Homo sapiens: one gene and its partners. The protein of the gene in region 3 purifies or fractionates together with the protein of the main gene of each other region. This does not show direct contact. Each region holds a gene or a part of one and is shown on either strand. Other genes may lie near its edges. The genes, in order: ZNF606, ERCC3, CDK12, DHX8, SRFBP1, RNF111 and IPPK.

Evidence for each region.
Region 1: the proteins of CDK12 (region 3) and ZNF606 fractionate together in Homo sapiens (co-fractionation; one large-scale study listed by BioGRID). This does not show direct contact.
Region 2: the proteins of CDK12 (region 3) and ERCC3 purify together in Homo sapiens (affinity purification with mass spectrometry, with the first as the bait; one large-scale study listed by BioGRID). This does not show direct contact.
Region 4: the proteins of CDK12 (region 3) and DHX8 purify together in Homo sapiens (co-immunoprecipitation; one large-scale study listed by IntAct). This does not show direct contact.
Region 5: the proteins of CDK12 (region 3) and SRFBP1 purify together in Homo sapiens (co-immunoprecipitation; one large-scale study listed by IntAct). This does not show direct contact.
Region 6: the proteins of CDK12 (region 3) and RNF111 purify together in Homo sapiens (affinity purification with mass spectrometry, with the first as the bait; one large-scale study listed by BioGRID). This does not show direct contact.
Region 7: the proteins of CDK12 (region 3) and IPPK fractionate together in Homo sapiens (co-fractionation; one large-scale study listed by BioGRID). This does not show direct contact.

The regions. Positions count from the first base shown.
Region 1 is NC_000019.10:57,978,486-57,982,694, forward strand, and holds part of ZNF606 (zinc finger protein 606), read right to left. Parts: intron 1,795-4,209; coding exon 1-1,794. UniProt on the Homo sapiens protein: May act as a transcriptional repressor.
Region 2 is NC_000002.12:127,269,819-127,274,027, reverse strand, and holds part of ERCC3 (general transcription and DNA repair factor IIH helicase/translocase subunit XPB), read left to right. Parts: intron 1-1,066; coding exon 1,067-1,163; intron 1,164-2,574; coding exon 2,575-2,692; intron 2,693-4,209. UniProt on the Homo sapiens protein: ATP-dependent 3'-5' DNA helicase/translocase. Binds dsDNA rather than ssDNA, unzipping it in a translocase rather than classical helicase activity. Component of the general transcription and DNA repair factor IIH (TFIIH) core complex.
Region 3 is NC_000017.11:39,516,576-39,520,784, reverse strand, and holds part of CDK12 (cyclin-dependent kinase 12), read right to left. Parts: intron 3,346-4,209; coding exon 3,229-3,345; intron 830-3,228; coding exon 698-829; intron 1-697. UniProt on the Homo sapiens protein: Cyclin-dependent kinase that phosphorylates the C-terminal domain (CTD) of the large subunit of RNA polymerase II (POLR2A), thereby acting as a key regulator of transcription elongation.
Region 4 is NC_000017.11:43,490,134-43,494,342, reverse strand, and holds part of DHX8 (ATP-dependent RNA helicase DHX8), read right to left. Parts: intron 3,953-4,209; coding exon 3,880-3,952; intron 3,179-3,879; coding exon 3,093-3,178; intron 2,161-3,092; coding exon 2,051-2,160; exon of another isoform or gene 1,969-2,050; intron 1,682-1,968; exon of another isoform or gene 1,663-1,681; coding exon 1,303-1,662; intron 899-1,302; coding exon 754-898; intron 661-753; coding exon 457-660; intron 1-456.
Region 5 is NC_000005.10:121,975,111-121,978,974, reverse strand, and holds part of SRFBP1 (serum response factor-binding protein 1), read right to left. Parts: intron 3,661-3,864; coding exon 3,588-3,660; intron 1-3,587. UniProt on the Homo sapiens protein: May be involved in regulating transcriptional activation of cardiac genes during the aging process. May play a role in biosynthesis and/or processing of SLC2A4 in adipose cells.
Region 6 is NC_000015.10:59,025,217-59,029,425, reverse strand, and holds part of RNF111 (E3 ubiquitin-protein ligase Arkadia), read right to left. Parts: intron 1-4,209. UniProt on the Homo sapiens protein: E3 ubiquitin-protein ligase. Required for mesoderm patterning during embryonic development. Acts as an enhancer of the transcriptional responses of the SMAD2/SMAD3 effectors, which are activated downstream of BMP.
Region 7 is NC_000009.12:92,663,232-92,667,440, reverse strand, and holds part of IPPK (inositol-pentakisphosphate 2-kinase), read left to right. Parts: intron 1-4,209. UniProt on the Homo sapiens protein: Phosphorylates Ins(1,3,4,5,6)P5 at position 2 to form Ins(1,2,3,4,5,6)P6 (InsP6 or phytate). InsP6 is involved in many processes such as mRNA export, non-homologous end-joining, endocytosis, ion channel regulation.

The DNA of each region.
Region 1 (4,209 bases), on a different chromosome or scaffold from region 3:
CAGTATGGTTTCTTAGGTGTACAATAAGGGATGAACTCTCATTAAATGCTTTCCCACATTCATTACACCTGTATGGTTTCTCTCCAGTATGAGTTCTCCGGTGTGCAATGAGGTGAGAACTACAGTTAAAGGATCTTTCACACTGATTACATTTATAGGGTTTCTCACCAGTGTGAATTCTCCGATGAGCAACAAGGTGACAGCTCTGACTGAAGGATTTTCCACATTTATTGCATTCATAGGGTTTTTCTCCAGTATGAGTCCTTTGATGTCTAACAAGGTGAGCCATCTGGCTACAGGATTTTCCACATTTATTACATTCATAGGGCTTAATTCCAGAATGAATTATCTCATGTTTAGTGAGGGCTGAGCGTTCTCTGAATGCTTTGCCACATTCCTGACAGTTATATGGTTTCTCTCCCGTGTGAGTTCTCTGATGGGCAATAAGATGGGAGCTCCAGCTGAAGGATTTTCCACATTCAGTACATTTATATGGTTTTGCTCCAGAATGAGTTCTTTCATGTTTACTAAGGGCTGAGTAGTCCCTAAAAGCTTTTTCACATTCATCACATTTAAAGGGTTTCTCTCCAGTATGCATTCTCATATGGGCAATAAGATGGGAGCTCCAGCTGAATGATTTCCCACATTCAGTACATTCAAAAGGTTTCTCTCCTGTATGAGTCCTCTGATGTCCAATAAGATGAGAGTTCCAGTTGAAAGATTTCCCACACTCATTACAAACATAAGGTTTTTCTCCTGTATGAATTCTCTTATGTACAATAAGATGAGAATTCCAGCTGAAGGCTTTTCCACATTTATTACATTCATAGGGTTTTATTCCAGTGTGAGTCCGTTCATGTTTCGTAAGGGCTGAGCGATTCCTAAAAACTTTTCCACATTTATCACATTCATAGGGTTTTTCTCCAGTATGAGTTTTCTTATGTTGAATAAGGTAAGAGCTCCAGATGAAAGACGTCCCACATTCATTGTAGTCATAGGGTTTCTCTGCAGTGTAAGTGCTTGTATGTTGAGTAAGGAAAGAGTCATACCCAAAGACTTTCTCCCATTCATTGTATTTATACGCTTTCTCTACAGTACCAATTTTTTGATGTTCCATAAAGGATGAGAAATAAAAGATATTCTCATATTCTTTGTAATTATACTGGTTTTCTCCAACATGAAGCCTTGGGTGTTCATTAAATGATGGGCTCTGGTTAAAGATTTGATGGCATTCCTTATATTCATAGAGTTTTTCTCCTGTGTGAATTCCTTTATGATCACCAAAATGTATTATATGATTGAAAGATTTAACAGCATCAGTACATTTGAAAAGATTATCTCCAGTTTGTATTCTTGCAGGGTAAATAGGTTGAATGGACTGATAAACAGTTTTGTCATAATCATTATTTTCACAGGTAACCTTATCTGCATACATTATGGCTGAGTCACATCTCCAACTTTGAGCATGTGTATCAGGCTTATAGAAATGTTCTATCTGAGAAACTCTCTGAGATGGAACAAAGTTTAAGTTCTGGCTAAACTCTGCCCCAAGTCCACAGAATTCAGAGCTTCTCTGGGATAGTACTTGCTTTTGCATGAAGACCATCTGCCTCATAGCTGTACTCTGGTTCATGTGGTACATTTCTAATTGGTCTTTACATCCCAAAACTTCTAACCTGGAGAACCAAGGATCATCCCATATATATCTTTCCAACTTCATGCCATGGGATTGTTCTTCCTCAAAAATGCTCTGTGCTGGGATCAATGCTTTGCTTTCAAGATTTCTCACCCATTCTGAAACAGACAGAAAAAAAGCTATGAGAGCATAGAGAAAGACATTAGAATAAAGTGGGAATGGTGAGATTTACTGTCCATATTATCAAAAACACTAGTATAAATTTGTTTTCAAGTCCAGGCTTAGAACTCAGAGAAAGATCATAATAGGGAAAAGAATAGTGAAAAGTAAACAACAGTTAACCAGAATACAAAGTGTGTACTGAAAACTAATGAAACCATTTAAAAGTACTTTCCATGAAAAGGAAGACCAGTATAAGAATGTGCAAGAAAGAGGCCGGACGAGGTGGCTACGCCTGTAATCCCAGCACTTTGGGAGGCCGAGGCGGGCGGATCATGAGGTCAGGAGATCAAGACCATCCTGGCTAACACAGTGAAACCCTGTCTCTACTAAAAATACAAAAAATTAGCCAGGTGTGGTGGCGGGTGCCTGTAGTCCCAGCTGCTCAGGAGGCTGAGGCAGGAGAATGGCATGAACCCGGGAGGCAGAGCTTGCAGTGAGCCAAGATCGCGCCACTGCACTTCAGCCTGAGCGACAGAGCGATACACCGTCTCAAAAAAAAAAAAAAAAAAAATGTGCAAGAAAGAGTTAACTCTGCAGGCCTGACGTGCTCAAACCTTGCAAAGGTAGCCTGTTTCCTAACTGGCCCTTAGCCAACTCCTAGGAATTAAGATCTTGGAATGTTCTAACTAGTAAGAGTGTTTTGCATGCTCAAGGTATTGAAGCACATTTACTTTTAACTTATTTAGATATGTGTGCAAACAATGTCATTCATAGTGATCACCTGCTTTCCCTCAGGGTGGTCTGGAGTTTCAGCGATGGCAGTGAGTCACGCAGGCACTGTGTGCCTGGATGAGCAACCTCTCAATAAACACACTGGACTCCTAGACTCAGGCAAGTTTCCTAGTAGAAATTTCGCACGTGTTGTCACAACTCCTTGCTTGAGGAATTAAGTGTGCCCCATGTACGCTACTGGAAGCTTGCACCTGGTCTAACCTCATGCACCTTTTTCCTTTGCTGATGTTGCTTTGTATCCTTTCACTGTAATACACCATAATCCTGAGTATAATGACTTTTGAGTCCTATAAGTACTCATAGTGAATCAGTGAACCTGGAGGTGGTCTTGAAGACCCCTGACAAAAGGACCCAGTGAATGTTATTAAGGTTAAAAAAGAAAAAAAAAGAATAAAGCCTTTCATCTTAACAAAAGTTAGGTAGATGAGCACACAAGGCCTTTAGCAAGTAATATTTACATCATGAGTGCTCTCACTTCTGTGTTATAATGTCCTTCTACTCCCATATCTTGACAAGTGCAGAAAAAAGGAGGAGAGGGGTGTTTAGAGAGTATCACCAAGCGAGGCTTCAAGCCAGGATGTTATCTATGACAAAATGCTTTGTTTCCTATGTCACAGAATCCAGTCAATCACACAAGATCCACCAACCCAAAGGGCAAACATCACCAGAGTTTATGGATACCCCTAAAGTTACACTTCTATCCACCACAGAATATTTTTAGAGCAATGATAGATGGACTAGGAAGACAGCATAGTGTGAAAAAACAGACACAGGAGTTACAGTCTGCTAATCTGTATGTGAACAATGGCCCTGCTGCTATCCTTAGAGAGCTTTTCTGATGACTAAAGTCGAGACTCAGAATCCAGCCAAACTCCTGGCAAGTTTAATACACAGGAACTGCCTATTATCACTGCTTAAGTATCAATCCTCTAACAACCAAAGGAGGCTATATTAGTTTCTTTCTGCTATTGTAACAAATTACCACACATTTAGTAACTTAAGGTAACACAAATTTATGATCTTTCCGTTCTGGAAGTCAGAAGTCCAAAACGGCTTTCACTGGGCTAAAATGGAGTTATTGGCCGGGTTGTGCTCCCTCCAGAAGCTCTAAGGAATCCACCATATCCTTGCCCTTTCCATCTTCTAGAAGCTGCCCCAATTCCTTGGCTCGCAGCTCCTTCCTCCATCTGCAAAGCTCATCACTCCAACCTCTGCTTCTGTCATCACATCCTCTCCCATGTCTCTGACCCTCCCACCACAATCTTATAAAAGGACCCTTGTGAGTACATTTAGAATCCACTCAGACAATCCAGGATAATCTCCCCACAGCAAGATCCTTAATTTACTCTCATCTGAAGGTCCCTTTTGCCATACAAGGTGCCCCATTCACAAATTCTGGAGATTAGGATGCAGATATCTTTGTGGGGGAAGTCATTATCCAGATTGCTACAGGGTCTAAAGCCCCAGGCAGGTCCCAACAAGAACTAGACCTTGCCCTCTCTCTCTGCTTCTTTTTTTCTCTTTACTATATGTAATTTCCCCCCTTTTACCACCCAAGTCCATTATTTTTTGTTTAATTTTTTTGAGACAGGGTCTCACTCAGGCAGGAGTGCAGTGGT
Region 2 (4,209 bases), on a different chromosome or scaffold from region 3:
TTTTTTTTTTTTAATGTAATACTCAGCTCAATGCCTGGTGTTGGTAGGTCCTGCGTACCTGTAGTTTGTCTTCATTGTCTTTGCTGTTGTCATCATCATCATCACTGTTGTTATGATTCTTGGGAAGCTACAAAAACTGTCCACCGTCACATTCCAAGACAGAGGGAAGGAGTGTGACATTCCCAATGCTATGGGATGATAACCATTGAGTTCATTGATAGGGTTGTACCCTTTGGCAGGGAGCTGGAAAATTTTTTTTTTTTTTTTTTTTTTTTTTTGAGACAGAGTTTCACTCTTGTTTCCCAGGGTGGAGTGCAATGGCGCGATCTCGGCTCACCACAACCTCTGCCTCCCCGGTTCAAGTGATTCTCCTGCCTCAGCCTCCCGAGTAGCTGGGATTACACACATGCGCCACCACACTCGGCTAATTTTGTATTTTTGGTAGAGACGGGGTTTCTTCATGTTGGTCAGGCTGGTCGTGAATTCCCAACCTCAGGTGATCCACCCGCCTCGGCATCCCAAAGTGCTGGGATTACAGGCGTGAACCACCGCGCCTGGCAGGGAGCTAGAAATTAAAGAGAAGTTTTTAAAACTTAGTGTTATGGGAAATCAGCACAATAATGGCTGAAGGGCACTTTTCTCCTTTCTGCTCATCTCTTGGAGCATGCCTGTGTCTTGGCAAACAGTTGCTTCCAGCCTTTTTTTGGAAATAGCAGTGGTTTCTTTGCACCTCTCTTTGGGCTTCATGAAATGTGGAGATGCTCCTTGTATAGACTCTGTGCTGAGAGTAAGAGATGTTGAAGCAGGAAAAAGCATAGTCCAAAAAGAAAACGAAAAATGGAAAGGAGGGAATCCCGAAGAGAATGGTGGGCCTAAACCTAGAATCAGTGGGGAAGGCTGGGAGGTGCATCTGTAGCCAGTCATTTTTTTGGGTGTAACGATATTCCTACATGACGAGGGCTTTCTACTTGAGAAGAGCTAGCCTGAGCTCCTTTTTCCCTCTGATGTGTTTTCAAGATAACTGAGGCATTATTCTGTGGTCTAACACAGCTTCATTCTTCTCTAGACCCTATATCTACGGACCTACGTCTCAGGGGGAAAGGATGCAAATTCTCCAGAATTTCAAGCACAACCCCAAAATTAACACCATCTTCATATCCAAGGTTTGTGTGGCATATGGGGTGGAGGTGAGGCCCCTAGCACTCTGGGGACCTGGGGGGTACACTATGATTCCTGGACAGTGAATTCATGTCTGCTGAAGGAACTTCTCCTGCATGTTTTCATTTCCGACATGTCCAGGGATAGGGGGCACTGCCTGGGGTTAGTGGAAGGAGCAGACTGAGGATTTGCATGCATCATGGATAATCTATAAAGGCTATTTGAGGTTTTTCCAGTTCTTTTGGGGATGTAGAAGTTTTAAGTTGTATTTCCTTATTTATAAAAGGAAAAAAAGTTCATTTCCTACTCTGGCAAAAGTAGGCATTTAGATGAAGTTCTCTTTACAAGTTGGAGATCCTGTGTGTCGCGGCAGCCTTTGTCCTGGTTCCTGGTGTCCCTTGATGATGGGTGGTGGATGTCAGCACAGACTTCCGCAGGCCCAGCTCAGGGATGGTTTACTCTGCAATCAGAAGCTGTAGCCCCACAGTTTAGAATAGTCATTCAGATTAAGACAGACCCAAAGCCCAAAAGAAATGAGATTTTACAACCGGGCGCGGTGGCTCACATCTGTAATCCCAGCACTTTGGGAGGCTGAGGCGGGTGGATCACCGGAGGTCAGGAGTTCGAGACCAGCCTGGCCAACATGGAGAAACCCTGTCTCTACTAAAAATACAAAAATTAGCTGGGTGTGGTGGCAGACGCCTGTAATCCCAACTACTCAGGAGGCTGAGGCAGCAGGGTTCAGTCACTTGAACCCGGGAGGTGGAGGTTGCAGTGGAGCTGAGATTGTGCCGTTGCACTCCAGCCTAGGCAACAAGAGCGAGACTCCGTCTCAAAAAAAAAAAAAAAAAAAAAAAAAAAAGAAATGAGATTTTATGTGATTGTGGCTGGGCGCTTATAAGCACCAAACCTTCATGTCTGTGGCTGGGAACCTCGATGTTTGGAGCCCCAGAGCTGAGGAATCCACCTACAGTCAGAATTCCATATGGGGCAGTTGTTCCTCCCAGGTCACATCCCACGTGTGCTGCTGGTGTCAGTGGCCAACAGGTAAGAGTATGGATGGTTTTGTGGAGACATATTTCTGTAGCCAAAAAAATGAATGACTCAAAGTCAGTCTCTGTTCAAGGGCCCTCTCATCTCTGGGCTCCTGGCACCCAGCACTGAATGTCACTGATGCCTGGTATTAATTCTTCAGGATGACTCTTAGCAGAACTCACACAAGGTCCTGGAGACCCAGAGATGCCTTTCTGAGGTTTATTGCTTCACCTCTCTCTGCCTGCATCAGATAGACCCTGGTATAAAGAGGAGAAAAGAGTGATTATGTTTCAAAATTATCTACAGAACTTATTTAAATTCTGGATCAGTTGACTTTTTTTTTTTCCTCATATATAAAAACCTTCCAACTTGTTTCTGTAGGTAGGTGACACTTCGTTTGATCTGCCGGAAGCAAATGTCCTCATTCAGATCTCATCCCATGGTGGCTCCAGGCGTCAGGAAGCCCAAAGGCTAGGGCGGGTGCTTCGAGCTAAAAAAGGTAAAGTGGCCTTTCATCTTCTGTTGCAGGAGGTCACTCCTCTTAAACCACTTTAGTTAGGAAGACGATAGGGGTGAGAGCTGCCATGTGCCCTGGGGCTAAATAGACTCTGGAGGGAGAGAATCCCAAAGCAAAGACCTAGATCCTTATGGCCCATCATTATTTCTCATACCTTGGGGGTGAATATGCAGGTGTTTTCCATGACAGTGTCACGGAATCCACACAGATGTGCTCTGTACACTGTGCAGCTGTGTTGGTAGATGGTGAGAGGGAGCCAGGGCAAGGCAGTGCTTATGGGGTAGACATGGAAGGGAGAAAACAGAGCTGGGCCACCAGTGTAAGTGGAGGAGCTGGAAGCTGCTTCTGGAACTTGATCAGGAGGCAGGGAAAGGTTTGGTAGGAGCAGCTTGGGCAGACACACAATGGGCACGTCATTCATAACCTGTGCAGAGTGCCGCCCTGGTGGCAGCTTGCAGCAGGGGCAGGGCAAGCTCAGTGAGTGAGGAGGTGAGAATCCTCATTGCAAAGGCTTTTTCTGAGGAGGCGTGGCACCCCTGTGCTTGCTTACTGCGGTAAAAGGGCCCAGACTGCCATTGTGGACATGGCAGGGACTGACACTCTTGCTAAGAGATGGCCGTGTCTGTCTTACTGGGACCAGGGCACATCCTGAGACAAGGACACAAGCCCTATCCTCAAGGAGTCTGCTTATTCAAGGAGGCATCTGGACTGCTAGAATGTTTGAAAATGACAAGATTAGTGGGCATCTGTTGGAACTGTACTGCGTTCAGATGTGTTTAAGAAGCGTCTAGTAGCTTGTATTTAAAATGGAGATGAGGCAGATAGCATGGACTAGAAATAGCATGGACTCAGGCACCAAGCCAGCTGTGTCACCTTTGGCAAATTATTTTCTCCTCTGAGACTTGGTTTTCCCATCCAAAGTGGGGGTGACAATCCTGTCTTGCCAAGACTGCTGTGAGGATTCAGCTTATAAGTCATAAAATGTAGTCGGCTGGCTGGGCACAGTGGCTTACACCTATAATCCCAGCACTTTGGGAGGCCAAGGCAGGAGGATAGCTTGAGCCCAGGAGTTTGAGACCATCTTGGGCAATGTAGTGAGACCCCATCTCTACAAAAAATAAAACTAGCTGGGCGTGGTGGTGTGTACCTGTGGTTCCAGCTACTTGGGAGGCTGAGACAGTAGCTTTTATAAACTGACAGGACTATGATCTGCTAGCAAATGTGAATATAATTCATTACTTATTCCTTACTCTAATTTGAAAACTCCTTTATTGATTGATTGATTGATTGATTGATTGAGATAGAGTCTTATTCTGTCACCCAGGCTGGAGTGCAGTGGCACAATCTCGGCTCACTGCAACCTCCATCTACTGGGGTCAAGTGTGATTCACCTGCCTCAGCCTCCCGAGTACCCGGACTACAGGCGTGCACCACCACGTCCAGCTAATTTTTTTTGTATTTTTAGTAAAGACGGGGTTTCACCATTTTGGCCAGGCTCG
Region 3 (4,209 bases):
CAAGGCTAAGGCAGGAGAATCGCTAGAACCCGGGAGGTGGAGGAGGCAGAGCAAGATTCCATCTCAAAACAACAACAACAACAACAACAACAAAAACACGCTGGACGCAGTGGCTTACGCCTGTAATCCCAGCACTTTCGGAGGCCAGGGTGGGTCACCTGAGGTCAGGAGTTCGAGACCAGCTGGGCCAGCAAGGTGTAACCCCGTCTCTACTAAAAATACAAAAATTAGCTGGGTGTGGTGGTGTGTGTCTGTAGTCCCAGCTACTCGGGAGGCTGAGGCAGGAGAATCGCTTGAACCCTGCAGAGGTTGCAGTGAGCTGAGTTGCACCACTGCATTCCAGCCTGGGCGACAGAGACTCCATCTCAAAAATAAATAAATAAATAAATAAACCAACCCACAAAAATCTAAAAGGAATACTTTCAAAGAGGCTCTACACAACAATATTCTGGGATGGAGATCCAGGGACAAAAGAAGATAGCTTGAGTCAAATTAGAACAAGTATCAAAGCTAAATCTATTACTTATATAAAGAAAAAAACAACAAAGATAAAACAAAAAAAACAAACCTCAACCATAATACTCAAAGACACCTCTTCATTTGGGTCTTACTGGGCATCTGTGGTTCTTTTATGAGTTTCTCATCGTCTAAGGCCCAGGGAAAGATTTAGGGTCACAACATGGCTACCAGCACTTACTCTGGAGGAGCCATTTTGCTGAGTTCGACATCTTTAAGGAAGTCGCTCTGTAGGGTCTGTTCAGCTGTGCACCGCTTACTAGGATCTAGTGTCAGCATGTGGTCCAATAAATCAAGTGCTGCAGAAGGAATGCTATGGAAAAGAACACAGAAAGGACAAGTTCACAATGACCCTACAGTTCTCAAATTTGTAATTTTGTTTCAAAGGGTCTCACACCTGTAATTCCAGCACTTTGGGAGGCCAAGGTAGGACTGCGTGAGGCCAGAAGTTTGAGATCAACCTGGGCAACATACTGAAACCTCATGTCTACAAATATATATATATTTTTAATTAGCTGGGTGCAATGCTGTGCACCCTGTAGTCTCAGCTATTTGGGAGGCTGACATTGGAAAATCACTTGAGCCTAGGAATTTGAGGCTGCAATGAGTTCTTACTGCACAACTGCATTGCAGCCTGGGCAACAGAGCAAGAGCCCATCTCTTTTTAAAAAAAAAAAAAAAAAGGATGTGCAATGGTGGCTCATGCCTACAGTCCCACACAGCACTTTGGGAGGCTGAAGCGGGTGGATCGTTTGAGGCCAGGAGTTCAGGACCAGCCTGGCCAACATAGTGAAACCCCATTAGCCAGGCATGGTGATGCACGCCTGTAATTCTAGCTCCTTGGAGGGCTGAGAATCGCTTGGACCCAGGAGGCGGAGGTTGCAGTGAGCCAAGATCACACTGCTGCACTCCTCCAGCCTAGGTGACAGAGTGAGACGGTCTCAAAAAAAAAAAAAAAAAAAAAAAAAAAGTCTTTGAATTTCCATGTAAAACCAAAGAAAGCAAGCTGGAGGTTGGCTAACACAAGCAAGCAGATTTGCTCCCACACAGGATTTAAGAAATGCTGGGCCGGGCACAGTAGCTCATGCCTGTAATCCCAGCACTTTGTGGGGCCGAGGCGGGCAGATAATCTGAGGTCAGGAGTTCGAGACCAGCCTGGCTAACATGGTGAAACCCCGTTTCTACTAAAAATACAAAAAATTAGCTGGGTGTGGTGGCACGTGCCAGTAATCCTTGCTACTCAGGAGGCTAAGGCAGGAGAATCACTTAAACCCAGGAGGCGGAGGTTGCAGTGAGCCGAGATGATGCCACTGCACTCTGGCTTGGGCAACAAGAGCGAAACCCCATCTCAAAAACAAACAAACGAGAAATGCTGTGCTATAACACAAGTAAAAAATATGGCCAATTCTGGCTAGGTGTGGTGGGCTTACACCTATAATCCCAGCTCTTTGGGAGGCTGAGGTGGGCAGATCACTTGAGGTCAGGAGTTCAAGACCAGCCTGGCCAACATGGTGAAATGCCATCTCTACTAAAAATACAAAAATTAACTGTGCATGGTGGCGGGTGCCTGTAATTCCAGCTACTTGGAAGGCTGAGGCAGGAGAATTCCTTGAACCTGGGAGACGAAGGTTGTGGTGAGCCAAGATCGCGTCACTGCACTCCAACCTGGGTGACACACACAAAAATATGGCCAGTTCTATCCATCTATTAAAGTTAAAAAAAGTAAAATAAAATAACAGAGAGGGAAAAAAGTAAGAAGAAAACAAAACCAAAACATGGCCAGGCGTGGTAGCACGAGTGATCTTCCTGCCTCAGCCTCTCAAAGTTTAAGCCCAGCAATTTGGGGGGCTGAGGCAGGAAGAGCACTTGAGCCCAGGAGCTCAAGACCAGCCTGGGCAACATTAGGAGACCCTATCTCTACACGGAAAAAAAAAAAATGCCAGGTGTGGTGGCGGGTGCCTGTGGTCCCAGCTATTCAGAAGGCTAAGGTGGGGCCGGACTCAGAGGCTCACGCCTATAATCCCAGCACTTTGGAAGGCAGAGGTGGGTGGATCACAAAGTCAGGAGTTCAAGACCAGCCTGGCCAACATGCTGAAACCCTGTCTCTACTAAAAATACAAAAATTAGCTGGGTGCAGTGGCAGAGGCCTCTAATCCCAACTACATTGGGAGGCTGAGGCAGGAGAATCACTTGAACTTGGGGGGCAGAGGTTGCAGTGAGCCAAGATCATGCCACTGCACTCCAGCCTAAGTGGCAAAGTGAGACTCTGTCTCAAAAAAAAAAAAAAAAAATGAAGGCTAAGGTGGGAGGATTGCTTGAGCCCAGCAGGTCAAGGCTGCAGTGAGCCCTAAACGTGCCACTGCACTCCAGCCTGGACAACACAGCAAGACCCTGTCTCAATTTAAAAAACAAACAAACAAAACCCATGAAGCCAACAATTCCATTCTCTTTTTCTCATGGAAAGATCAAGAAGGCTATGAGAAAATTTATATATTGTTCAAAATAAAATGGTTTTCTATTGTCTAAAGCCTTCAGAAGAGAAAATTACAAAAGGGCTATGATAAAACTCATATACTGTTCGAAACTAAAATGTTTTCCTACACTGTGTTGCCATGATAAACTGGGACAACATTAACTACCCAGACCAGGAAAAAGCCAAGTCCCAACACCAGCCAGACACAGAAACGAGATGTTCATTTTCCCCAAACTCACAAAGAGAATTCTTCTCGTAGACGCCTTCGATATTGCTTCTTCGGTTTCATGGTGTTGAAGTAGGGCAGTTTGATAACATCAGGCCACACAGCTGGACAAGGGCTACCACAAAGTCGGCTGAAAACAAAGCAAAAGCAAGAACAATGGAGTGAGTGAGTCAACATCATGAATTCCGGAGGTTTCAGAAGCAGAAATTATTACCTCCTGAGGTCTGGGGAATCTTTGGTTATTACATTACAGGGCATGCAGAAAGGAAAATATGACATTACTGCTTTAAGGGCAGAAAGGCAGAGAACAGAAAGAACTGGTTATAACAGAGGAAAGAAAAAATACTCGGATAATAATCCTAAATGATCCACATTATTTGGATTTGTGAAATGTTTTAATCCCCCCATACAGGTTTTTATTACCAGTTTTGTTCTGTTCAGTTAGTAGTAATTACAAAGGGCTAAGATGATCCTATAGTATCCCTATAGGGTAAACTGTGAGATGAGAAGAGAGTATAAGACTGAAAATTTTGAGAGATAATCAACAGTTTACCAAATAACAACAACAAAAATATCACCTTTATCACCTTTAAAAAATGTCTACATTGGCCGGGCACGGTGGCTCACGCCTGTAATCCCAGCACTTTGGGAGGCCGAGGTGGGCGGATCATGAGGTCAGGAGATCGAGACCATCCTGGCTAACATGGTGAAACCCCGTCTCTACTAAAAATACAAAAAAATGAGCCGCGTGTGGTGGTGGGCACCTGTAGTCCCAGCTACTCGGGAGGCTGAGGCAGGAGAATGGCTTGAACCTGGGAGGTGGAGCTTGCAGTGAGCCAAGATCACGCCACTGCACTCCAGCCTGGGTGACAGAGCAAGATTCCATCTCAAAAAAAAAAAAAAAAAAAAGTCTGCATTAGGCTGGTGTGGTGGCTCACGTGTGTAATCCCAGCACTTTGGGAGGTCAAGGTGGGAGGACTGTTTGAGCCCAGGA
Region 4 (4,209 bases), 4.0 Mb from region 3:
CACGGCTAATAAGTGGCTGATATGGTTTGGCTGTGTCCCCACCCAAATCTCATCTTGAATTTCCACGTGTGTGGGAGGGACCCAGTGGACGGTAACTGAATCATGGAGGCAGCTCTTTCCCACGCTGTTGTCACGATAGTGAGTAAGTCTCATGAGATCTGATGGTTTTAAAAAGGGCATTTCCCTGCACAAGCTCTCTTGTCTACTGCCATGTGAGATATGCCTTTCACCTTCCTCCATAATTGTGAGGCCTCCCCAACCAAGTGGAATTCTAAGTCCAATAAACCTCTTTCTTTAGTAAATTGCCCAGTCTCAGGTACGTCTTTATCAGGAGTGTGAAAACAGACTAATACAGTGGCCAAAAGTTATCCCAGGCCATCGTGCTCCAGGGCACACCCCTAAGCACCATGCTACATGCTGAATGACTATCTGGTCATGAAAACTAAAGGCCCCAACCTGTTTGATCTCCCACTTCTCTGGGTCAGAGATTCGGGTGAGGCGCTTGCGTTCCAGTGAGTCGTCCTCTACTTCAGGAGCACTGACAAGGGACAAGTGAGTGGGTCTATCAGGATTCCGCATTGAGGTCTCCTCATTGGTCTCCCCGACAAGATTTCGCCGTCTATTTGGGTTTAGATCTTCTCCAGTCTCTTGATCCACATCCTAAGGCACAAAAACAAGGGAGCTGTCTCACTTGCTGTCCTCTTCCATTCCCTTGGCCATCACATGTAAGAACAGGCTGACCATCTCACCTACCTTCATGCTCAGGCTGGTCTTGGTCCCAGTGAAGGACAGCACTTTGACTTTGACCCTCTGGCCTTTGCTCACGACATCAGCTACATTGGCCACACGACCCTCCCGCCGGAGCTCAGAGATGTGCACCAGGCCTTCCCACCGCTTCCTGAGGGAGAGCCAGACACATCTGGAACATGCCAAAAAATATTTTTCCCCCAACCAATTTCTACCCTTACTGGAACTAACAAAAGAAAATGGTCTTAAACTCAAGAGAAAAGTACCATGAAGGTGGTCAAACAATAAAATAGTATTAACACTCTCCTCATGGGGAGACATGGGGTGGGGAAGCAAATTCTATCTGTCCCAACAAGCAAAGGACAGATCTCCTGAAGACAGAGAAAGGAATAAATGGCTCTGTAACATTTCAAAAGAGTCAATTTCTAAGAACCATGTATGGCTGATTTGACTAAAGTGTCATTAATCAAAGTAACTTTTTAGAATGTGAACATCCTCAGTGATAAAAGAAATTCTGCCCATCACTGGTGTGAACAAAAGAGCACCAGTCATTACCTTAGTCCTTCCAGCTGCACAAAGCAACCAAACTGCATGATGCTGGTAACTTTGCCATTATAAATGTCACCAATGGTGGGCTCTTCTGGAGGAGGGCGGTCCACATGCTTATCCCGCCATCTATCCAGATTCCGCTCTCCATATTTGTCCCGGTCCTTCCGGTCTTTGGGGGGACTCTGACTCCTGCTCCTGGACCGATATCTAGACTTCACTTTATTCCTCTCCCGGGTCCTGGAACGTGATCGAGAGCGGGATCGGTGTCTCCGCTTGTGGTCTCTATCTCGGTTTCGTTCCCTATCTCTGTCTCGATCTCGGTTTCGATCTCGGCTTCGACTCCGCTTCTTCTTCTTTGTCCTGTCCCTAACAAATCAATAAGCACCTGTTTAAAAAAGAAACCAATCCGATTTCATCTTCGCATCCCCAAGCACCCAGTACAGTGCCATGCACATGGTAGGTACCCACTAGGTTTTGAACTGAATTAGAGTTTCAATAACTACGACATCCCTATAAGCCAATAAAGAATTGAGCCACAAACATATTCAGCCTCTTTCAACCCTGACTTCTATATTCTGAACAACCTAGCATTTGCTACATACACTTAGCAGGAAGCAATGAAAACAGATCCAACAATATGATATATGACCAGTCCAGATTCTGTAAACTTGCCCAAAATTTTGCTTGGCTGGTCCATAATATTCAACTGTCACAGTACCCTAAACTTCCAAAGGACAGGACACTAAGGACAAACCGGTGTTCAGCATCTCTTTGCTTCTCCTGGCCTGCTGCGCTGGGCATTAAAGCTTCCAGTTCTTTCAGGACATCCACAGCAACTTTCACATCATCTTCATCCAACATGGTCTGCAGAGGTAGAGGCCGGCAAAGTTAGGAAAAAAAACTACTCAAGAATCTGTATGTACCTCAGGTACATCTATAAATCACTAATCACTATGTGAGGGAAATAGAAGAGGGGCAGAGATTTCAAACTTGATTCAGGATAGATGCAGAAGAAATGGAAAAAAGGCTCTTGAGAATTACTGCTACATTTGACAAATCCCCTCTGTCCTTAATAGAATTCTATGAAAGGCAGTTAGATATTAATCATCCCTGCCATGAAAGAATGCAAGTGATGATTATATTAATAGAAAACAGGTGTTAAAAATTTTAAAAAGCAACTCTCCCTCTGCACTCTTCCTCCCTACCCCCACTCCAGCTTTATTTTTTTAAATAGCCCTTATTGCTATCTGCTATGTTACATACCTATTTGTTTGTTTATTGCCTATCTCCTCCCCACCAGAATGTTTACATGTTTATTTCCTGCTCCCTACCCCAAAATTAGGATATAATCTCCAAAGGCTGAAACTCTTGTCTGTTCTGTTCACTGCTGTTATCCAGGTACTTAGAACAGTGTTTGGCATACAGTAAGTACTCAATAAATATTTATTAAAATGAAATTTAAAAATCAAAATGCTTTAAAAATTAGACCTTTAACAAGTAACAGAGCAAAAAAAAAAAATCTAATTTCACACCTTAGGCATCTGTTCCAGAACCTTATTTCATATTCCTAATCACTACTTCCCCAAATTCCCAATCTCATTTCCCTTGAATATCATTCTCAGAACCCCTTAACAAATTCAATACATAGTACATGCTCAGGGAGTGATCAAACACTTTCATTCTTAAAAATAAGTTACAACAAAGGCAAACTTAAAATTAATAAAATTACTATGAGACAAAGAAAAGGGGTTGAGAATATATATTTATAGTAGACACTCTTAAAATGGTATCAGTACCCGAACAGAAGGGTTGTCCGGTTGGCAAAGGACTGGGAAGAGTTCCTTCAGCTTTTCTTTTTCTGTTTTAGGTTTAACAACTGGATCTTGTTTCATTAAAGAGCATGAAGGGGTTAAAAAAAGAGATATATATTTAATATTATTAATGATTAACAAAATAACTTCAACAATAGATTTGTATCAAACTGAAACAGAACATGGCATTTTGCTATATATTAATCATACCTGTTACTATAAATGTAATTTAATTTTCTAAATACATTGATCACAAACTATCTCGAAATGTAGCAGAAAGAGGAGTGTAGCAATACTCATTGGGTTATGTCTTATCTTTTTTATTTTGTCTTAAGTCGTTTGAAATTTTTTTTCCCCTTGAAACGGGGAAAAAAACCTCTGTCACTCAGGCTAAAGTACATTGGTGCAACTATGGCTCACTGCAGCTTCACCCTTTTGGACTCAAGCAACACTCCTTCCTTAGCCTCCCAAGTAGCTGGAACTACGGAGGCACGCCATCATGCCTGGCTAATTTTTTTATTTTTTTGTAGAGATGAGGTCTCTCTATGTTGCCCAGGCTGGTCTAAAACTCCTGGGCTCAAGTGATACTCCCACCTTGGCCTCCCAAAGTGCTGGGATTCCAGCAGTGAGCCGCTAGGCCCAGCCCATTTGAAAAATCTTACTGGAACATTTACTTGCTCAGCAACTGCTGAGAGGAAAACAAATGCAATTTACAGGATGTTCAAAACCTACACCATTCTAGAAGCTAAGCTCAGCTGGAAGCTCTGCTTACCTTTGCTAGTGGAAGGCTTCGCTGGAGGCCGCATGGTTTGTATGAGACGCAGCAAGTTACTAATAAGAGAATCCTTTGAAAAGAAACATAGAACGAAAATTGTCAGCTCCCATATCAGTGCTTAAATACACTTAAAAGGCAAAGAATGTCCTGTAGGGAAGGGTGGTTACGCACTTGAATTTAGCTAATTGGAATACATGAAACATAGTGTGTCAACCTGGTGTAGCATGAACCTAGTATAATAGCTTCAGAGAAAGCCGATATTTAGGACTCTTTGGGGAGAAAAGTTATTAGGCTCCCTGCAACCATTTTATTTCCCAAGGTTTAGAA
Region 5 (3,864 bases), on a different chromosome or scaffold from region 3:
AGAATGTAAAACTAGGGGAAGAATAGAACAAAAGGAGAAAGTTTTAAACTAGAGGAGAAGTAAGAGGTAGCAGGCAGAACAAGGTCTCAAAGAAGAATACATAAATTCTCATCTTAAAGAATATTCAGGATAGGAAGAAGTAACAGCCTTAAGAGAGGAAGAGGTTAAAAAAGAATACAGATAGGCCAGGAGTGGTTGCTCACGCCTGTAATCCCAGTACTATGGGAGGCCGAGGTGGGCGGATCACCTGAGGTCAGGCGTTCGAGACCAGCCTGGCCAACATGGCAACACCTTGTCTCTACTAAAAATACAAAAGTTAGCCAGGCATGATGGCAGGCAACTGTAGTCCCAGTTACTCAGGAGACTGTGGCAGGAGAATCATTTGAACCCAGGAGGCGGAGGTTACAGTGAGCAGAGATCGGGTCACTGCACTCCAGCATGGGCGACAGAGAGAGACTCCATCTCAAGTAAAAAAAAAAGAAATACAGATATAGGCTACTGTGTATATTTACCTGTCAGGAATTAAAGGATCTGAAAACACGTTGCACATCTTTCAGTCTTTTTTTTCCTAGATGGCAAGTTTCATGTTTACTAAATTATCTCCTCCAATATCTAGGAAAGTGAGTCTGGATATATCATAGGATGTTCTCAACTTACTGAAGCAGTATACTACAGTGGATAACATAATTAGCTTTATAATCAGTTATAAGTTGCTCAGTTTCTCTAAGCTTGAGTTTCTTATTCTGTAAGACAGGGATAAAAATGATATCTACCTAGTGAGACAGTAAATATAAAACACATAATATAATGCCTGGCACATAGTAAATGCTCAGTAAAAGCTAGTTGTTACTTTTATTATTGAGTAAGAGACTTGTTGCACATTTTGAGTAATTTCAGTATATGCTTGAATTTTACCATCTCCTTCTCCAGTTAAGTAACTTACTGATCTATAAGTGTTGATAGGCTAATTTAACTAACTTTCAAAGAAAAAGAAACTGTTTTAGAAGGCAATATTTCTACTAATATCAAAGTTAAAAGTATGGACACTATTATAGAAAAGGCAGCAAAGACTTGGGTTTCATACACCATAGTCTATAAAATTAGAACCTATGATTTTATAGTGTAAAGATCAAGCCAATTTTTTTTCTTAGTTGGCCAGAAAAAGCAAACTCTCATTTCTAAAAATACTCATGATTTCTTCACAAAGAAGTCATCCTGCAACAAAATACCCTATTATTATAGAAAGCAAGAATAGGATAGTATGTCATCAATAAGACTATAAAAATGAAGCAGTGTCTGAGCCAAGGAAAAAATTTCTCTGGAAAAATAAATGAGCAGAGGTCTTTTCTCCAAATTTAATTGAGATTGAGAGTTTGTTTTGTCATCATTTATTTGATACTCCCAAGTAGGTAATAACCATTTCCTAAGAAAATTACAAATGACCTTTTAATTAAGAAAAATGCTTTATTTATTTGCTTTGTTTAGAAAAGACAACAAAATTTGTAAAAGAACCATAAATAAGGAATAAAATTTGACACGTAAGAACAGCAAATATATAGTCTTTCTAGTATTCATTTTATATTTAAATTCATTCCAGTTTTTAAAAAGCATTACAAAAGAAGTTGAAGTCAGAGTAGCCAACCCAGCCTGCCCTAACTCCTGCCACAAACTCAAGACATATATATACTATGAATTTTATGAATTTAAGGAATACATAGGCTATGAATTTGGCTTTCTATGATGCAACCATTCCATTGCGCAATCACAGGGAAAAATAGAACACAAATCAAACCAAACCAAACCAAACCAAACCACGATAGTGATGTGGTAATCTTGTAAACCTACAAACTTTATCACTGAATCAGATTTCCCTTTGCTGATGAGATTCAAAACAAGAAACAGAAAACAGGCTTTACATTTAGATCAAAAAGGACAACTTTTCTTTCTAATTAATCAAATGTATCACTGAAATTTACAAAAGGGAAGTATTCTAAAGATTGAGTATCTTTTGTTCTCAAACTCTTCATACACCACATACAAGTTATTATATATAACAAACCATGGAAAGAATGTAGTGTGTGTGTATGTATATATTTTTTATATATATAAAAAATTTAACAAATTCCAGTTTACTCCAGTTTTTAAACAGTATTACAAAAGAAGTTAAAGTCAGAGTAGCCAACTATACATTGTATGTGTATGTGTATGCACATATATATATTATATATATATATACATGCATACACACACACACTGCATTCTTTCCATGGTAAAATAAAATCAGCAATTATATAGTAGCTCAAAGCCTCTGAATAATTTAAGACTACAAAAATGACTATTCAGAAGAAATTACAGGGAAAAATTTAGGTAGGCAATGTAATTTAGTAAGAACCTTGGTTAAGAGAAAGTGAAAGAGATAAATTGTAACTTCCTATTTTATTGCTATTCTCAAGACAAAATCTCTAAAGATTTTATTTCTCATAGGAATATCATTTTAAAAAGGTATATGAAAAAACTAAATAATCTGCAAACCACAGAGACACAAATGATCACTGACAGTCAAATACAGAAGACTTTTTTTTCCTGAAGGACTGAATAAAAAGGGAATTATAACCTTGAGAAATAAAAGTTATATCAGATGGATTCCATGAATTTTATAATAGTGTGCAGCAGAGGGAAGGAAGAACACAAGAAACAAATATACTTCATATCAAAGAGTCGTTTCCTAGATGTTTTTATTCAGATTAACTGGGATAACTTTGTCCTATTAAACACTTTACTATCCGTTTAAAAGGAAGAAAGGCTGAGAATCTTTGATAACTTAACTCAATTAAAATAGTTAGAGAGTTTTATTTCTCTTTTACTTAATTCAAAACTTGAAAGTTATACCAAAATATAATAGGCAAACATGCATGCAAAATGACCCTGCAATTAAGAAAATTGCTGGGACCAAATGTTGTTTTTAAGTTCTACAGTAAAACAGTCTCCCAGACATTTAATGTCATGTCATTTGGTAAATGAAAGTTTCCTCAAAGTAAGAGCAGCAAGAAGACCTAAAAATTATGCTAGTGAAGAGTCTGACTGAAAAAAAAAACAAAAATATGGGATCACATTGGTCTAACACTAATTTTATTTGAAGTTACTACAGAACTGAATAAAATGCCGATACCAATACATAAAAATTTATTGAGCTGGCAACAAGGAAAGCATGATGTCAGCCACCAATATCACCATCCACATTCCCAAATAGCATGAAGACTTTAATTCTTGAACTGACTTCGTGCTAAAGTTACAGTAAAAATAAAAACCTGAGGCAGGAGGCATTATTAAACATAGATGAATTTAGTTTGGCACAATTTTGACTCAAATTAGCCTAGCACTTTAACAAATTCAGTCAAAAACAGAAAAATGCAAGCTTAAATGTTACAATTTTCTAAATGTGCTACATTCTTCACCAAACAGACTGATACAAGATGTCTTACGCAACTCTCGGGAATATTCAAATAAGCAATACCACACACAAACAAAATGCAGGATAACAGGATACTCAGAAACATACACACATACACACCCACACAAGTCCTTACCTTCATGGCATGGATTTCTTCAAGCAATCTTTGCGCCCGTCTTTGGTTTTTTAACAGTGCATCTTCAGTACCCCTGCAAAAAATACATTACGATATGTAGCCAGGCAAAGCATTAATTTTAGACTTATAGTGTAATGGATAATCACTTCATTTCTTTTTAGAAAAGCGTAATAAATCTCTAAATAACAAACACGCCACTATCCTACACTGTCCATTTCCCCCACTCCCAAAACACACCTCAATTTACTAACCAAACCCATATGTTGGAAAATGGCAA
Region 6 (4,209 bases), on a different chromosome or scaffold from region 3:
ACGCGCTATCTGTAGTTCAGCAGGATCAGTGATAAACCAGGAATACAAAGATGAGTGAACATGAGCATGGCAATGAGCAAATTACAGAAGGCAGCCAGTCAGACAAGGATCACTTTAATTAAAGGCAAGAACACAGAAGTCACAATGATAAAACACAGGTACATGTGATCTAAGAGTTGAATGGGGCCAAACAGGATGGCTGTAATAAAGAACACAGGTAATAACAAGTGTTAGAGAGGATGCATAAAAAAAAAACATTGGAACCCTCATATATTGCTGATGGAAATGTAAAATGATACAAGCTACTTTGGGAAGCGGTCTAGCAGATCCTCAAAAATTAAATACAAGCTGGGCGCGGTGGCTCATGTCTGTAATCCCACCACTTTGGGAGGCCAAGGCGGGCGGATCACTGGAGGCCAGGAGTTCGAGATCAGCCTGGCCAACATGGTGAAACCCCATCTCTACTAAAAATACAAAAATTAGCCAGGATAGTGGCGCACTGACTGTAATCCCAGCTACTTGGGAGGCTGAAGCATGAGAATCGCTTGAACCTGGGAGGCAGAGGTTACAGTGAGCTGGGACTGCACCGCTACAGTCCAGCTTGAGCAACAGAGCAAGACTCTATCTCAAGAAAAAAAAAAAAATTAAACACAAAATTGCTATGTGACCTAGCATTTCCACTCCTAGGTATGTACCCAAGAGAAATGAAAACACATATTCATAAAAAAACTTATAAACAGCAACATTAGTCATAACAGCCAAAAAAGTGGGAACACAAATGCCAATCAACTGATGAATAAATAAATCCATACAAAAGATTATTACTCAGCAATAGAAAGAAATGAAGTACGGTAGTCCCTCACTATCCAGTTTAACTTTCCACAGCTTCAGTTACTCACACTATGAGAGAGAGACCACATTCACATAAGTTTTATCACAGTATGTTGTTAGAATTTTGCTACTTTATTGTTGTTGTTAGTCTCTTATTCTGCCTAATTTATAAATTAAACTTTATCATAGGCATGTAGGTATATGAAAAAAAAAACACTATATGGTTTCAGGCATCCACTGGGGGACTCAGAATGGTTTCCCCTTGGACAGGGGCGCAGACTACCATACTGACTCAAGCTACAACATGGATAAACAATATGCTAAGTAAAAGAAACCAGTCAAAAAGATAACATAATGTAAGATTCCCTTTATATGGAATGTCTGGAATAGGCAAATCTACATAGATAGAATGTGGTTACCTAGGGCTGGGGATCATCGGAGGATTCAACTATGATGGCCGAAAAGCATGGAGTTTCTGGCCAGGCGCGGTGGCCAAACCCTACACTTTGGGAGGCCGAGGCGGGCAGATCACCTGAGGTCAGGAGTTCGAGGCCAGCCTGGCCAACATGGTGAAACCCCATCTCTACTAAAAATACAAAAAATTATCCGGGCATGGTGGCGTGCACCTGTAATCCCAGCTACTCAGGAGGCTGAGGCAGGAGAATTGCTTGAACCAGGGAGGCAGAGGTTGTAGTGAGCTGAGATCACACCACTGCACTCCAGCTTGGACAACAAGAGTGGGGAAAAAAAAAAAAAAAGGTGGGCCAGGTGCAGTGGCTCACGCCTGTAATCCCACCACTTTGGGAGGCTGAAGCGGGTGGATCACCTGAGGTTAGGAGTTTGAGACCAGCCTGACCAACATGGTGAAAAGAAACCCTGTCTTACTAAAAATACAAAAATTAGCCAGGCATGGTGGCAGGCACCTGTAATCCCAGCTACTCAGGAGGCTGACGCAGCAGAATCGCTTGAACCCAGGAGACATAGGTTGCAGTGAGCCGAGATTGCGCCATTGCACTCCAGCCTGGGCAACAGAGCAAGACTCTGTCTCCCAAAAAAAAAAAGAAAAAAAGGTATAGAATTTCTTTTATTTTCAGTGAACTGAAAATGTTCTACAACTGATTGTGGTGCCAGCTATTCAACTCTGTGAATATACTAAAAACCCAGTGAAATAAAATCTCAATAAAACTCCTGCCAGAAAGTCAAGAGGTTTAAAAAAAGTGAAAAAGTCAAGAGGAAAAGTATCAAGATTTCTAGGCATCAGAGACTCCATCAGCAACAGAAGTCTCATGATGTATGTTGGAAACAGCTGGGGTTCTTCCAGAAACCCATGTCAGAGTTATGTTCTGGTGGATTTCAGAGGAGGAGATCTTGGAGTCTTTATGGGCTGAAGATTTAAAAATTAGACTCCTCATCCGTAATTACTAAGTCCTCATGTTGATAATGGAGATCATGAGAAGCAATGAAAACTTGCCAAAAACCAGACAAATTCTGAGAACATGCAGCCATACATTAATTTACAAAGAAGCAATTCACAGCACAATTAACTAAACCCAATTTCTTTTCCATCATTTCATGTCCCAAAGCCAAAACAATGCAATCAACTCTTTATGGTTAAATCTGCTCTGATTTTTGATCAGTTTAGTCTGTCCAATGAGACAAGGGTAGAGGAGAGCAAGGGGGGGTGGTTTGGTGTATGCTGTGGTGTGTGTTTGTACACCAGTTAACTCTTCTCTGAGTTAACATATCATGCAGTCATTAAATGCAAAATTAATATCCCATATAACTAAGAGGTTCCCACCCAGGGAGTAATTCATACTATTTTTTTTTCTAAAATCCATCGCTGTATTGTATCATGTTCTAAATTTTTTTTTCTAAAATCCATCCCTGTAATTGTATCAGGCTGTATTTTGAACTTAGAAGAGGAAAGTTCAAAAGGAAATAAACACAAGTATTGCATTTAACTTAAAAAGCAGCAAATATAACAGATAATATTCTAAATTATTTGCTGTTTGATAAAACCATATTCTAGTCTTTTATTTTTGTAAAAATTATTGGCTGATCTAATTTACAAAGGAGGCAAATGCGTACAAGATATATCTCCTTGGTGACATTATAAATGGCTTGCTGTTACACACTGTTTCAATACTGAAACCATAATACTAGTCCCTCTTTGTGTAGATCGATCCAATCATTTCATTGCTATGTCATGATGACTGCATGCTAATTACTCCTGATACTAGTGTAGAATACACCACTATTAGTAAACCTTGCACTAAGAAAATACGATAGCTAAAAAAAAATACTAACTTTCAAAACTAAAAATTAGGGTTGGGATTTAGTAATTCACATCATAAACAAGTTTATGTGAGCAAAAGGAGGAAAAACCCATTAAGACTATCCATACAACTCTGAGGAACTCTACTTCTAAACTGTGATACACTATTATTGGTATGATGCTTCACCACCAATTATAAATATGAATACTTGTTTCAACTTTAAATAAAAATGTAATGATTGCTTACATGACTCTAAAGAAATAAGATTTTAAAAGAAAAAAAAAAAGCCGGCCGGGCACAGTGGCTCACGCCTGTAATCCCAGCACTTTGGGCGGCTAAGGCAGGCAGATCACCTGAGGTTGGGAGTTCGAGACCAGCCTGACCAACATGGAAAAAACCCGTCTCCACCAAAAATGCAAAGTTAGCCAGGCGTGGTGGCACATGCCTGTAATCCCAGCTACTCGGGAGGCTGAGGCAGGAGAATCGCTTGAATCCGCAAGGCAGCGGTTGCGGTGAGCCGAGATCGCGCCATTGCACTCCAGCCTGGGAGACAAGAGCAAAATTCCGACACAAAAGAAAAAAGAAAAAAAAAAAGCCATAGATGACTTGGCATTTTTCTACAAAAGTTTTAGAGATTATCAGAAAATCAACTAGAAATATGTCTACCATTTAACTATCTTTTTAATATAATTAAGTGAAAAAAATAATACCTGTACTACAGGGATATCACTTGGGGTGTGTATTAAATTTTTAATTCTCTTATTTATTTTACTATGTGCCAGCTTAAGTATATTAAATCAAATGCCTGAAAGAATATTCTCTTCTACTACCTATAACTACTACTACTCATATCTAGATAATACAGACAATATGCTTTGTTACATATTCTAAATAGCCAAAATTTCATTAGCAAGAAAGGTATTTTCCCTCAAAAGTATCACTATGGACCCTCAAGTGCATTAGCTCGTACTAAAATTTCTCAAGAGATTTCTGCTAGGAGTACACAACCTAATAATGTACTCAATTATGAAAAGAAGAGTGGGACCCTTGATAAACTTATTACCTTTCCTAGTAGAAAGGAGAAAGTTATACTCACGATAAC
Region 7 (4,209 bases), on a different chromosome or scaffold from region 3:
TGTGGCCTGTTTGCTCAGGCTGTGGACCGAGGAGGAGAGAGAGCAATTCCCAGAAGGCAGCTTTTTAGGACCTGTTGAGTTCGAGCAGAGGGTGTGTGTCAGTGGGATAAGAGATGGGTGAGGTAGAATAGGAGGAGTCCGTGGTCTTGTGGATGCTGAGCATGCGCCCAGCCTCCTTCCAGCCGGGTGTGGGAGCAGGTGGACCCTGCTACTGTACTCCTTAGATCCACCTCATTCAGTCCAAGAGAGAGGGAGGCCTTTGCCAAGTTTTTCCAGGTAAGGAGAGGGTTGCTTTCTCTGAGAGGACATCAGCTTCTCTCAGAATTGAAAGGTCCCTAATGAGTCCTGTGCTGACCCCCATCCCCTCTACCATGAGAACATGATGCGCCTTCAGCCAGCCTGAGCTCGTCCTGCAGGAGCCGAGGGCCTAGGTAAGGAGATCTGCATGGTCATTGGCTGTCAGCACTAGAAGGAGCACAGTGATGTTCTTCCTGCAGTATGCAAACATGGGATGAGAGAGAGCCTTCTGTGCAGCGCAGGACTTGTAGGAAATGAGGCCTGGGGATGGAGGAACTAGGTGTGGGCTACAGGAGGGTGGGAGGTTGTGCCCAGGGTGGGCAGGAAGGTAAATAGCAGGCCAGCCATAGAGAGGCGTTTAAAGGTGTTCCTGACAGAAGGTGGTCAGCTTCCCCAAGGCCCTTCCACTCAGAGACGGCCCAGGATGATTCTCATTTTGCCTGTCAGTTTGCATTCTGCCTCTGTTTGGGATGGTTGTGCACCTGAACTTTCCCAGGCACAGGTAACCATGGTGTTCTCTGCCTCATGTGGTGTGGACCCTGTGGCATGCTTGAGAGGCTCTCGGCAGCCTGGCATGTTCCCTGGTGTGTGTCTGGAGCTCCAGACACTGACCCTGTGGGGGCTCCTTGATGAGGGAACTTCCCATCTGGGCACAGTTTCCTCGCTGCAGCCTGAAGGTGCAGTACTTGGGCCAGTGGCCACATCTCAGGTTAGTGAAGTCCACAGGTTGCCCCTTTATGCACTGCCGCAGGATTTCTCTCCTGTGTGACGCCTGCGCCTGCCTCCTTCGCCTTCAGCTTGTTGGTTTTGGCTCAGTGTCCTGTCCTATGAAGGTCACTTTAGGTTTGGTTTGTCATTCCATCTCCTAGGTGTCTTCAGATCTGGATCATGCACTTGTCTGGGGCACTGAGCCCCTTCCGGACCACCTCAGCCTTGGGGAGCAGGGGCAGAAGGTGGCCCACTCCTGTCATGACACTAAGCTGTCATGATGTTTTCCTTCTTACTGACAGAGGTGACAGGAAAGACTTTGCCATTTAGTTGGCTTACCAGCCAACTAAATTGATCACATGTGTGGACAAAGCTGCTCACTTCCAGTTGTTCCAGTTTCGTGACCTTTCTGAGAGTCTGAGAGCTTCAGATCATTTCTGCAAATTGTTTTGTTGCCTGGGGAGTTTTGGTGTCCCTTTGGTACCTGTTTAGTGCTTGGGATATTTGTCTGGGCATTGAAGGTGTGAAGCTCAAGCGGTCAGGTGCCCTTCTACTGTTTCTCTTCTCATCTTGTGTTTTAAGATTTCTGGTTCATAGATCATATATATATGTATTTTTTTTGCCATACAGCATGATTTTGTATATTTTAATAATTTAAATGATTATTTTGTAGTGGATGAATTAAGTCCTTTATATGAGGATGTGTTTACAGTTACGTAGAAAAAGCAGGTTACAAAAGAAGATGCATGATGTGGTTATAATTACAAAATGATTAGAAGAAAATAGATGAAAATGTTCTAAGTGGCTGTAACTGATAGTATCACGAATCACTTTTACTTTTTTTTGTTTTTTAAATATTTTCTGAATTTCCTACAATGGATATGTATGATACTCAGGAAAAAAGATTAATTTTTAAAAAGTTTATACTCTTTGATTTACTAATTTCTGTTCTAGTAGTCCGTTCTAAGGAGATAATTAGAAACGTAAATAAAGATCTTATACACAAAGATATCCATTACAGAATCACTTAGAACAGGTTAAGTGGAAAGCCATTGTGCAGTCCTGCAGGACTGTTAACTGGGCCATACTTCCTACTGTGGATGCTGAAAGCACATACGTTTATGTTCTCTGTTTTTTTCTGACTGTATAACATGTGCCCAAGCCCTTGGTCGCTCCCTTTTACAATTTTTAGCTGGACCTAGTTGAAATAGTCTTAGCTTTCTGTTACTGCTAGCATTTTGTTTAAACTAGTGATGTATTCTGCATTTGGGATTTTTAGTGGCGCTCTAGGCTGACGCAGCTGATGTGGCTTCTTTCCTGGTGATGTTCCTTCTTGTCTCATTTGAGCTCATTGGAGAGCTGTGCTTGTGGCTCGCTCTTTGTTTATTCCTTTCTTTGTATCTGCAGTTGCGTGATGAGGTCTGCTGTTTGGTGACTGCAGCCTGTGACAGTGCCTCTCGTGCACGGGGGTTTGTTGGTTTGGCCTTGGCTCACCTCCTACTTTTACACCTTCTGAGGTCACACAGCCACTTTTCTTCTGCCTGACTGAGCCTCCTTCTGCATCAGAATTCAGTCAGAGCAAAGCTCCCCAGTGACTTCCTGTGTCTTCTGAGAGCTGCGATCCAGGAGGGTGAGAAAAGCATCATTACTGTGTCTGCAGAGAGCAAGGCTGTGCCTAGGGCCCGGCCACTCCTGCCTTGTTGCCAAGCGGTTGGGAGATCTGAGGGCCCGGACTTGCTCACAGTTCCCTGTGGCCCTCACTGTGGGCCTCTAGGCAGCCCTGCTTCCCCTTTACAGGCAGTGAGGCTTTCCATGCCTATAGGGGTCAGCCCCATGCACGAGGTGTGCCTATCCCCACAGGCCTCCCCATGTTCTGAGAGTTGTGTGGGTGTGTGACCTCCCCCATGGCCCACACCTGTGCCTGCTTCAGTCCTGCAGAGGACACCATGAGGTCAGGACGGAGTTGCCGAGGCTTGAGGACATGCCCCATACAGGTTGGACAAGGGGCCAGCACTTACTGCGCCCTGACCCCAGGCTGTCTCCAGTCTGGCCTCCCTGCTCTTGCCTGCAGAGTACTGGGCTCCCATCCTCCACAGGCATCTTGGTGATGTCACTTTTCATCCGGTGTCAAATGTGCTTTGTATTTCTATCTGAGGCCATACATTCCCAGTGAAGCGAAGCTCACCCTTGGGAGCGCTTCCTGTTGGAGCCCAGTACCGTAAGCCCTGCTTCTTGTTCCCTCCACGGTCCTACGCATCCTGGACATCCCTTTCTGGGTTGCAGAGGTGGACTTCGGCACCTCCTGCCCCTGGTGACTGACAGACCCCGGGCAGCCTTCTCTGGCTGGGACAGAGCTGGAGCTGGAGCTGCGGGGGTAAGCTAAGGAGGGTCTACAGGGAGGGCAGCCTCTTGAGACTGGACATTTGGGATCCCCCATGGCCCCTGCCTGGGAGTCATCTTCACAATTCGGAAGAAGCTGGAGCTGAGCATTGCTTCTAGAAGGCATCCTGAGGGGTGACCCCTGCTGCTGTTGTCTTTTTCTGTCTTCCCTTCCCATGAAAGTTGTCTGATCTCAGCTTCAGGTTATCTCCTCAGCCTGATGGAAGACTTGACCTTGGTCCTTGTCTTTTGACAGATCTCTGGAACAGCTGATTTTGTGGGTGATACCCCTCCAGAGTGAGTCCTCTGTGGGTGGCGGGAAAGTCTCTCCTCATCTGTCCTGAAAGGCTCTTGTAGTTAGTAGCTTTAATTCCACCCATAAGGTGCCCCCTCAGGCTTCCCATTGGCAGGTGTCCCTTTTAATGTATTGGGGTTTTTGTGGCCTTCTATTTTTATTTAACACCAATTGTTGCTTCTTCTCTCTGAAAATATAGAATATCAGAAGGAAGGAAGTGAAAAACATCCAATATTTCTCCATGAAGAGAACAAGTTTTGTTAACACTTTGGTGCACTTTCTTCTAGTCTTTTTCTATTTATTGTCAAGCATCGCTTAACACCAGGGATGCATTTTGAGAGCTGCATTGTTAGGTGATGTTGTTGCCATATGAACACACCTAGATGGTAGAGCCTGCCCCATGCCCAGGCTGTGTGGGGCAGCCTATGGCTCCTAGTCCTCAGACCCGCGCAGCATGGTTCTGGACTGAGTACTGCAGGCCATTGGGACACAATGGGAAGTGTTTGTTATCTAAAGGTAGAAACTGTGGT